Regions from separate parts of the Homo sapiens genome. Here region 1 is linked to region 2. The links come from fine-mapping of genetic effects on gene expression. A gene starts in region 2. The other region holds a variant in brackets. All regions are shown on one strand. Distances are from middle to middle. Region 1 overlaps MYO9B (myosin IXB). Region 2 holds the start of MYO9B (myosin IXB).

The links. PIP is the estimated chance that this variant, and not a neighbour inherited with it, causes the effect.
Region 1: its variant is fine-mapped to the expression of MYO9B in breast (GTEx, PIP 0.95). The same link has a PIP of 0.9 or more in fibroblasts.

Annotation. Positions count from the first base shown.
Region 1 is chr19:17,105,788-17,111,152 of GRCh38, reverse strand. The region is part of intron 2 of MYO9B (myosin IXB); the gene reads right to left. Among named protein-coding and RNA genes, the nearest start is that of SNORA118, 16 kb to the right of the region's middle. RefSeq lists enhancers at 247-748, 712-821, 2,854-2,903. The variant C/T (reference allele first, on the strand shown) is at 2,858.
Region 2 is chr19:17,073,416-17,078,771 of GRCh38, reverse strand. It overlaps MYO9B (myosin IXB), which reads right to left and starts at 2,995. Exons shown (of 40, transcript NM_004145.4): 1 at 2,898-2,995. It overlaps HAUS8 (HAUS augmin like complex subunit 8), which reads left to right and starts at 3,320. Exons shown (of 11, transcript NM_033417.2): 1 at 3,320-3,378. The coding sequence starts at 3,350. RefSeq lists silencers at 2,559-2,853, 2,848-3,197 and an enhancer at 3,378-3,577.

The sequences.
Region 1 (5,365 bases), 32 kb before region 2:
AGGCTGGCATCCAACTGTGTCTTGCCCGACAGACTCAGGGGGAAAGGACGTGGCCCAGGCAGGTGTCCTTGAGGGCAGAGGTCGAAGTGGATAATGGCACTGTGGTCTAGGTGACCTACCCCAGTGCTGACTGTGGGTGGGGGAACAGAGCTAGTGGCCTGGCTGATGGCAGAGGGGCTGGGGGAGTTGGGGGAAACATGAGACTGGGTTTGTAGGGCCCCTAAGGAGGAGCTCAGGACCCGGTCCAGGTGGGTACGAGTCCTAGGTTCCTTTGCCCCAAGAGGGGGGTCTGGGGCAGTGGCACGTTCAGGACCCTTCCTCAGTCCCTCACTGGAATGTCCTGGGCATCGGCACAACTTCGGGTGAGCTTGGCTCCACCAGCTGGGGGCGTCCCTCTGCGCCCTGCAGCCCATCACTGTCACCGTGTCCCACTGTGGGCCGGGCCACAGGGGCTCCATGGAGTCCAGGGACCCTTGGGACAACAGCCTGACAAGCAAGGATCCTTATTTTATTTCTGCTTTCAGAATGAAAACCCCATGCACGCTGCCAGCTGCCAGCTGCACTTGCTACAGTTCAGGACAGATGAAGGGAACCCCAGCCTTTGGCCCCCTGGACTCAGCCTGCTCTCAGAAGGGCACCGAGGCGAGTGCCTGGTGGATCTGAGGCTGTGGGCAAAGGGAGAGGAGCGTGTTCTGGGTGTGCTTTGCGGCGAGACCCCATGGCCGATGCTGTAAGGTGCTCTATCCACAGCCCCTGGGCTGTCGACGGGCGCCTGCACTGGGAGGCTAGAGGCCATGTGGAAGATGGGGAGACTCATGGCTTCTGCAGCCCCTAGACTTGGTGAAAGGTGATGGCAACAGTTAACTGCAGTGGCGGGCAGATCAGCTGATTGGAACCGGCTTTCCACAGTGCTCCCTTCCTGTTTTTTGGTCAGCATTACACAGCGAGGCTGCAACCCTCGCGGGGGGCGGGGGTCAGGGGGTGCATCCAGCGACACTCAAACCTCAAAACAGCTCAACTTCTCCTTTCGGGGAGCTGAGAAAAAATCCCCAATCGATGCAGCGAGTTGTGCTGATCTCCGGCTTTCTGCAGCCCGGGCGAGAGAGGGGAGAGCAGAGAGGCAGCCTGAACGGGGGGCTGGGGCTCAGGCCGGGTTCAAACCCCGGGTTAGGCTTTGGCTCTCTGCGGTGTGGCCTGGGGAATCTACCTGCAGTGGGTTGACTTGTGGCTTCCCAAAAAAGACATGTCTAAGTCCTTACCCCCAGAACCTGTGACTGTGGCTTTATCTGGAAACGGGGTCTTGGCAGATGTCATGAAGGTAAGTATTTTGAGATGAGGTGATCCCATGAGAGAAAGGCAAGGGAGATTGGACACACACAGGGGAGAAGACCAGGTGACGACGGAGGGAGAGGGCAGAGTGATGCGGCCACAAGCCCAGAGCTCCAAGGATGGCTGAAGCCACCAGAACCCGGGAGAGAGGCCTGGGACAGATTCTCCCTCAGAGCCTCCAGAGGGACCCAGCCCTGCCCACACCTTGATTTTCAACTTCTGGCCTCCAGAACTGTGAGAGAATCAACCCCTGCTGTTTGAGGGCTCCCAGCCCGTAATACTTTGTTATAGACACCTCAGGAAACTCACACATCCACGTGTCTCTCTGGGGCTCAGTTTCCTCATCTTTAAAATGGGCAGAGCTGCCGTGAGGGATTAGAGATGATGGAGGAAAATCACGAAGCCCAAACCCTGATACCCAGTGGGCCTGAGGTCTTATTCCTCTTATTAGAAAATGATGGCCGGGCGCAGTGGCTCATGCTTGTAATCCCAGCACTTTGGGAGGCTGAGGTGGGCGGACCACGAGGTCAGGAGATCGAGACCATTCTGGCTAACACGGTGAAACCCCATCTCTACTAAAAATACAAAAAATTAGCTGGGTGTGGTGGTGAGCACCTGTAGTCCCAGCTACTCAGGAGGCTGAGGCAGGAGAATGGCACGAACCCGGGAGGCAGAACTTGCAGTGAGCCGAGATCGCGCCACTGCACTCCAGCCCGGAGACAGAGAGAAACTCTGTTTCAAAATAAATAAATAAATAAATAAATAAATAAATAAATAAATAAATAAATAAAATTAAAAAAAAGATTCTTGGGGCCAGGCATGGTGGCTCACGCCTATAATCCCAGCACTTTGGGAGGCTGAGGAGGGCAGATTACTTGAGGTCAGGAGTTTGAGACCAGCCTGGCCACTATGGTGAAACCCGTCTCTACTAAAAATACAAACATTAGCCGGGCACGGTGGTGGGCGCCTGTAGTCCCAGCTACTCGGGAGGGCTGAGGCAGGAGAATCAAACCCAGGAGGCAGAGGTTCCAGTGAGCCGAGATCGTGCCACTGCACTCCAGCCTGGGCGATAGAGCAAGACTCTATCTCAAAAAAAGAAAAAAAGAAAATGACTCTTAAGTTAGCACAGAACAGAAAGAACTCACAGATAATTTCTAAAAGCTCAGTGGCTGCAATGAACAGTGATTGGGTCTTATGGGAAGAACTCAAAGACAGCTGTTCTATTCCCAGGGGGTGATTTGTCCCCAGGGGACAACGGGAAGCTATTTTGTTAATACCTCTCTAATCAATGAAATGTCTGGGGACACTTCTGGGTGTCACACCTGCGGGGTGGGGAGTGCTCCTGGCATCTGGTGGGTGGAGGCCAGGGATGCTGCTCAATGTCCTTCAATGCACAGGATGACTCCCTCCCCAGAGAACGATCCGGCCCTGAATGTCAGCAGAGCCAGGTTGAGAAATCCAGCTCTCAGTGAAGACAATCACATCCCTTTGCAAACAGTCGCCCCAGGAAGCACGTTTATTGCCATGA[C/T]GTGGATTTGGCTCAAGCCTGTTTTGGAAGCCGGCGTGGGCACCACCCTCGAGCGGCTTAGAACCGCTGGAGAAAACTGGCCTCGCCAGCCCCCGCTGCTGAGGCCCCAAGCAGGTTGGCCTGGCAGGACCGGGGGTCTGACTCACAGAGGGTGACTAATGGCTGTTGAAGGCATACTGGAGACTGTGCAGGCGTGGAGGCTGGAGGGAGCTTTGCTGGCATCCGGGGAGGAACTACCGGTCCCCAGGACAATCGCGGATCTGGGGCAGCCCTCAAGGACCCAGGCACAAGATGTCACCAAGTGGGACTTGCCAGGGGCCAGGTAGGACTTGAAGCAGACCAGGTGGGGCTGTATGGGGGATGCTGTGGGCTGACTTGAGCCCCCCGCCCCCAAAATTATATCCACATCCTCACCCCCAGAAACTGTGTATGTGACCTTATTTGGAAATAGGGTCTTTGCAAATGCAATTAGGTAGGATGAGGTCATGCCGGGGTAGGATGGGCCCTACATCCCATGAGTGGTGTCCTTGTTATAAGAAAGCCACGTGAAGACATGGACACACAGGAAGAACGCCCCTGACGACAGAGGCAGAGACTGATGTGACGTGGCCACAGGCCAGGGCACATCTGCAGCCACCAGAGAAGCTGAAGAGGCCTGAAGCATCCTCCCCCAGAGCCGGGAGGGAGTGCGGCCCCGTGGACACCTTGATTTCAGACTTCTGGCCTCCAGGACCATGAGAGCCTTAATCCCTGTTGTTGGAGACTCCCTTGCCCCTAACACTTAGCAACAGGAAACTTGTCCACGCCCTGGAGGGTCCTAGTGAGATGGCGCTGTGGAGGCAGCAACGTGGTGGGGAGGACATGGACCCTGAACTGAGACCTAGGTGGCAATCCTGCCTCCTGGCCGTGCCACTTTGAGACCCTGGGGCTGGGCGTGTCATTTCTGCGGGGCTCAGGCATTTACCCACCTGCCTAGTCCCATTTGGCAAAATGTCTGACATGGTAAATGTTGGATCTACCCTCTCATTCATTCACCTACTAAATTTTTTTTGTTATTTTTTTGAGACAGGGTCTTGCTCTGTCACCCAGGCTGGAGTGCAGTGTGTGATCACAGCTCACTGCAGTCTTGAACTTCTGGGCTCAAGCAATCCTCCCACTTCAAGCTCCTGAGAGCTGAGACCACAGGCATGCACTGCCATGCCTGGCTAATTTTTTATTTTTATTTTTAATTTTGAGACAGATTTCGCTCTTGTTGCCCAGGCTGGAGTGCAATGGTGCGATATTGGCTCACTGCAACCTCCACCTCCCAAGTTCAAGCCATTCTCCTGCCTCAGCCTCCGAAGTACCTGGGATTATAGGCGCTCGCCACCACACCTGGCTAATTTTTGTATTTTTAGTAGAGACGGGGTTTCACCATGTTTGCCAGGCTGGTCTCGAACTCTTGACCTCAGGTGATCCACCTGCCTTGGCCTCCCAAAGTGTTGGGATTACAGGCATGAGCCACTGCACCCAGCCTAGTTTTTAAACTTTTTGGTAGAGATGGGGTCTTGCAATGTTACCCAGGCTGGTCTGGAATTCCTAGGCTCACGCAATCCTCCTGACTCAGGACTCAGCCTCCTGACTCTGGGATTACAGGTGTGTGCCACACATGCTGAATTTTCAAGATCACTGTTTTATCTCGGGTGTGGATGCCAGGCACTGATGTTTTGGCCTGGAGAGCCGTTGAGCCCCCTGGCCACCTGCTGGGAGGACACTGGGGCCACTGGCAGTTTCACTGTGGCTGAGTCTCAGAGCTGGGATGACGCCAGGGCGGCCTCGGGAGACCAGAGCTGGGTTGCATCTACCTCTGCTCAGAACCTCTATAGCTCCTGTGTCACCCAGAGTCTTCCCCGAGTTCTACCTGGGGAGAATTTTGTGTTGACTTTGGCCACCACATAGCCCAGCACCTATATCATAGCCTGCCACACAGCAAATGCTCACACAGCAATGAACGGGCGGTCTGGGTATATAATGTAATGCACACAAGACAAGCCATATTAAAAACAGCTGAGGTGGGAGGATCACTGGAAGCCAGGAGTTCGAGACCAGCCTGGAGAACATAGTAAGACTGTGTCTCTACAGAAAATTTAAAAATTAGCCGGGCATGGTGGTGCACACCTGGAATTCCAGCTACTTGGGTGGGAGGATCGCTTGAGCCCAGAAGTTCTCGAGGCTGCGGTGAGTTATGATTGTGCCACTGCACTCCATTCTAGGTAACGGAGAGAGACCCTGACAAGAAAGGAATAGAGGAGAGGCGAGGAGAGGGGAGGGGAGAGGAGGGGAGGGGAGGGGATGGGAAAGGAAAGAAAATGGACATTCTATGGTGAAATTGCTCAGCAGTTTTATTAAAAGCTGATGTAAACAATGACAATGAATCTCTGTGTTACTTGCACAGGAGAAAACAGGAATAGGCTACATATGTCGGACCAGGGCTAAGTTGTATGACCCCAATTAATGTCTTACTGATGA
Region 2 (5,356 bases):
AAAGGTATCTGCTTGTGCAATCCCTTCCACCCGGAGTGGTTTAACACGTGGTATCTTTCCAGGTTTGACCTGGGGCCAGCCACTACTTCCGAGGAAACTTGCTGGAATCCCCCTTGTCCTAAAGCTTGCATTGGTTGTCCCTAATTCTCCCCCCATAATATCTTGTGGCCCCTCTGTCACCGTACTGATGACCTGATCTGAATTCCATTCTTTTTTTTAATTATTATTATTTTTGAGGGCATCTTGCTCTGTCACCCAGACTGGAGTGCAATGGCGCAATCTTGGCTGGCTGCAAACTCCGCCTCCTGGGTTCAAGCAATTCTCCTGTCTCAGCCTCCAGAGTAGCTGGGACTACAGGCGCACATCACCACGCCGGGCTAATTTTTGTATTTTTAGTGGAGACAGGGTTTCTCCATATTGGTCAGGCTGGTCTTGAACTCCTGACCTTGTGATCCACCCACCTTGGCCTCCCAAAGGGATTACAGGCCTGAGCCACCGCGGCCCAGCTTGAACTCCATTCTTTCTGAAGAGGAAGTGCAAAGTTGTCGGGGGCGGGCATTAGCGTGTCCGTCCTCTGGGTCATAAGGATTCACCTCTGTCCCCAGGAATCTACCAAGTGTCTGGCACAATCAACCCTTGCCTAACTGAAATCTAGGCCCACCCAAGACACACCATTTGGAAGAGATGAGGAATGGGAAGCAGCAAGTTAACAAGTCCATGTGGGGAGAGAATAACGAATCCTACAGCCAAACAGAAAGGGGAGATTCCCACGTCTCTACCTGCTCCACTGAGTCACCAGACTGGACCCGAGGGACGGTACTGCCTCGGGATTTCCAGAAATTTGCAGTTTCCAAAGCTTTGGGAATAGGTGCAATGTGCAAAAGCACCTTCAACACCGCAATTTTCTATTTGGACGATGAAGAAGCGGTTGAAAAAAAATCATTTTTGGATACAAACTGTCGAATGGAAAACGGAATAAAAGTAGGATCATCGCAGCCAGGAATGGAGAGTGGGGGTGCTGTGAGGAGTTCAAGGCCGGGAGCTGGGGGACATGGACTGGAGACAAGACGGTGATGAGAAGAGTTGGGTTTCAAGGTTGAAAAACGCTGATGGAGGTCAATTCATTCATTTTGCAGGTGAGAGGTCAGAAACAGGCACAGAGACTTGACCAAAGCCAGGATCTCCAACACAGTGCTCCCCCCACAAGACCCTGCTTGGCCATTCTCTAGCGGCAGGGAAGAGGCGATTGCAGGGCTGCGGGATCAGAAGATCCCGGTCCTGTTCTGTAGGCCAGTGCAAGCCTACAGTTCAATGTTTGCAGGAGGCATGACTGTGGGCTGTCACTGCATGTCCTGGGGCAAGCCAGGCCAAAGCCACCTTTCCTAAAGGCCAGGATATTCTGGAAGTGAAGGGGGTGCTTATCTTTCTGTGGCCCTCTTTATATTCCAGCTATCCGGGTTCATCTCCTGAATGAGCTATAAACTAAACATAAGCTGGGGTTCCCCAGCCCTTCTGGCAGATCCCAGATAAAGATCCCTACAGTTGGGAAAGGGGAGAAATGAATGCCAATCAAAAGCACCCTGCACAAAGTCCCTGCCAGGGCCACAAGAGCCAGGCCTGTCAGATGTGAATAACTTTCCTGTAGCCCAGGTCACCTCCGGCTGCTCCTGGACACCTTAAGATTCTGAAGACTCCAACATCAAAAAACAAACCGAGTTGGGACTCTCTGGCTGGAAAGTGTCCCCACGGGCTCCCACCTCAGACAAAGAGGCAGAGAAGCCATCCCTTAAAGACCCCTGGCCTCCAGGGTGCCCAGGAAAGAAAGGAGGGCTCGTGGCTGTCGTGCCTCTCCAGGGCTGAGCTCAGAGCAACCGGGGGACAGATTTCCTGTATGTCGTTTTACCCATTTAAGTCCAAGGATGCAGCTCTGCGGAGGTGGCGACAGTCCTGTACATGAGGGTGCATGCACACTCCCTCCTGAAACACAGTTCCGGCCCCACAACCGGCCCTGAGGTCCCTTCCTTGGATCCAGGGAATCCCAGAATCCTGCTAGTCCTGTCTTAAGGGGAGGGTGGTGAAGTTTCCAAGACGAGGACACTGGCACAGAGGGTGTTGGGACTCGTCCCAGGTCACCCAGCTGTTAAGTGTGAAGTCAGGAGGGACACGAATCAAGAGGGGAGGGTGGGGGGACGGAATCTCCAGGGGCTGCATCTCAACATCTATCTGCACGGGGCCACTCTAACCCCTTCCTTCTCTTCCCTCCTCTCCGGGCCCTCCCTCCCTAAGCCTACCCTCAGTTCTTACCGTGACTTCTACTCCGTTTACTTCCCTTCCAGCTCCCATTTCCCCGCTTCCCAATAGCCGGCTGCCGCATCAGTTAGTTCAGAACCCCCCGCATTTACTGAGCGCCCACTGGGGGCCAGGCGCCGCCCTCTTCTCAGACACCCTTCCTTCAATCGCGCGGGCAGACGTCCCCAGATCGGTCTCGCACCCCTTCCCCTCAACCGCACCCCGGCTGTCCCGCCCCTGGCCTTGCCCACTCCCCCAGCCTGGGCCTCTCGTTCCCGCCTCCGTGCCTCCCCACAACGCCGTTTCCTGCGACCCCCCAATTACCACTTAAGCCACGTCCTCTTCAGAGAAGCTGCTCAAAGCCACAAGACTCACCCCCCCCACGCCCTCGAACTCCCTCACCAGCTCCATCCCCATCCACTTTCTCCTTCACCGTCTCGCTTCCACCTCATCCCCAGCAATCTCTCCAAGACCCCCAGGCTCGTTCCCGCCCCCTCGACCCCTGCCGTCGCGTCCCCCATCAGCCCTCAGCTCCGTCCCTCTTCTGCGCAGCCCCCAAAGGCAGGCTTCGAGCTCGAGTCGCCAACCCGAGGCTGCCTGGTACTCACCTGGCCTCGGCCGCCGCGCGCCGCCGGTCCCGGGCCGGGTCCCCGGCCGGACGACCGCCTGCCAGCCCGCCGCTGCTCGAGCCGCTCCGCCCCGCCGCGCCCGCCGCTCCCCCGCGCGCTCCCGCTTCCGGGTTCCGGAGAGGCGGGGACGGGGGCGTGACGCCAGCGCTCCTAGGGGCGGGGCATCGCGAAAAGCCCCGCCCCTACTGTCCGACAGATCAGGTCCCACCCACCGCCCCTACCCACTACCGCCGATGGTGGGCGAGACCAAGTGCGAGGGGAGGACAGGCGAAGCGCGCGTCTGGGGCCGCGCTCTCCACACTTAGCCGGCGCTGCCTCACGCCTCGCAGCCACCCCTCCTGCGTCTCCACAAATGGTCCGACCCGCAAGCAAGGGGGCGGGTCCGGCTTTGAAAAGCCGGCGGGTCGGGCCTTGAGGTGGAAGGCGGGAAAATGGCGGATTCCTCGGGGCGAGGCGCTGGGTGAGTTGGGGCTTCCGCAGGTCTGGATTTGTAGACGCCATAGGGCTGGAGAGGATGGGCAGCGGAGGTGGGGAGTTAGGACCCTCGGGGTGAGTTCGGGTTCGACCCCGCCAGGAACTGCGCGGGCCCCTGAAGACCCCGATGGCGTGCTGCCTCTGCGCATGCTCCGGAGCGCTGACACCCGACCGGCCCTGAGTTCCGCGTCCTCGGCTGGGACGCTGGGCGACCTCCGGCAAGCGGCCTGACCGCCCAGTGCCTCGCTTTCCTCCGCTACGAAATGGGGCCGATGACGCAGCTCAACCTCGTAGGCGTCGCGTGAGGCTGAAACGCGCTTAGATCGGCGCCTGGGTCTTTACTGTGATGTCGCTCTTGGAATTATCGTTATGCAGTGAACAAGTGTTGGGCGACCAAAGTGTCCCCTTTAATCCTCCCACGCGCTTTATTCTGTGCTCCCAGTTTACTGAGGAGATGATGGAGACCCAGGGAGGGGAAGTGACTTGCCTAGGGTAACACACCATGAACAAGAAAGAAGTTGAATACTGACCGAGAGCTAGGCATGAATGATCATGAGGCTATATTTGTCTAGTTTTGTTAATTCTGCCAGTGTTGATTGTGCCAGGTGCAAACTGAAGTGAAATTGGCCAGCAAGAGGAATCACTCCACCGCCCCTTGCCGTAACCGATAGATTGACAGTAGCACCTCCCAGGTACAGGTGCAGTAGCTGAGGCTCGCACAGGTTGTAGGGACCCCCCTCAGGTCGCAGCAGGTTCACCCAGGAGCCCATTCGGTTTGAGGCCACAGCCCTAGCACAGTCCCCAGAGGGAGTCTGTGCTCTTGTCTCTTTCTGGCTGTGAGACTGCCCCGGGGGTGACCTATGTAAAACCTGTGCGTCTTTGTTTTGCAGCGACGAAAAAGCAGGTGTGAACAGTTAGGAAGCTGTCGGGTTAGGAGGAGCCTACGGGCGAGCGCAGCTGCTGGCACCTGGCGAACATTTGCTAAGTTGCCTCTCCCCACGGTGGCCTGGAAGTGTCCCCAACATTGTCTGGGTCTCACTTTGGGGTCCTGGGAGCCTGCTTCAGAGGAGGTGGCCGCAGGGACCAGTGGAGCCGCCTTTGGTGATGGGAGCAGGAGTTACAGTGCCCTGGCCTTGGCCCTGCCCCTCCACTTGCCCATCCACTTGCCCCTCCTGTGTTGCTGGTGTCTGTTCTTGGATCCCTTCTTTTCTCACCAGCTCAGGCTGAAACCCTGAAACCCCTAGTCATCCCAGATTCTCCCTCTCCTGCACCCCCACAGCTGATGAGTCAGCGATTCCTATCTCAGGGTCCCTTCTTTCCTATTACATCAGGCTTCATTCTATTTTTATTTTTATTTTTATTTTTATTTATTTATTTATTGAGACGGAGTCTCACTGTCACCCTGGCTGGAGTGCAATGGCGTGATCTTGGCTCACTGCAACCTGTGCCTCCCGGGTTCAAGCAGTTCTCCTGTGTCAGTCTCCTGAGTAGGAGGGACTACAGGCGCATGCCACCACCCCAGCTCATTTTTGTATTTTTAGTAGAGATGGGGTTTCACCATGTTAGCCAGGATGGTCTCGATCTCCTGACCTCGTGATCCGCCAGCCTCAGCCTCCCAAAGTGAGGTACCTGCTGGGACCACTCCTCGTACCTGCCTGTCAAGATGTTGTTCTTCCCTTTCTGGGAAGGAGCTCTGTGTTTTGTTACCACTGTGTCTCTACTGGAATATAGTAGGTGCATCAATGTCTGGTGAATGAATGAACCCAGGGATAATTTGAGATCTGCTGTGATCTCTTCCACAGAGCTCTCATTACCCTCCTCTCTTCTCAGTTTGGGTGTTCACCTATGCCTTCTTGCCCAGGTGACCAGGGCTGGCTGCTCCTTGTGTCCCTTTTCCTGTTGAGGTGGCCCACCCTCACTGAAATTGTCCTCTGGCAGCCCTTGGACTGGGCTGTCTGAGCTTC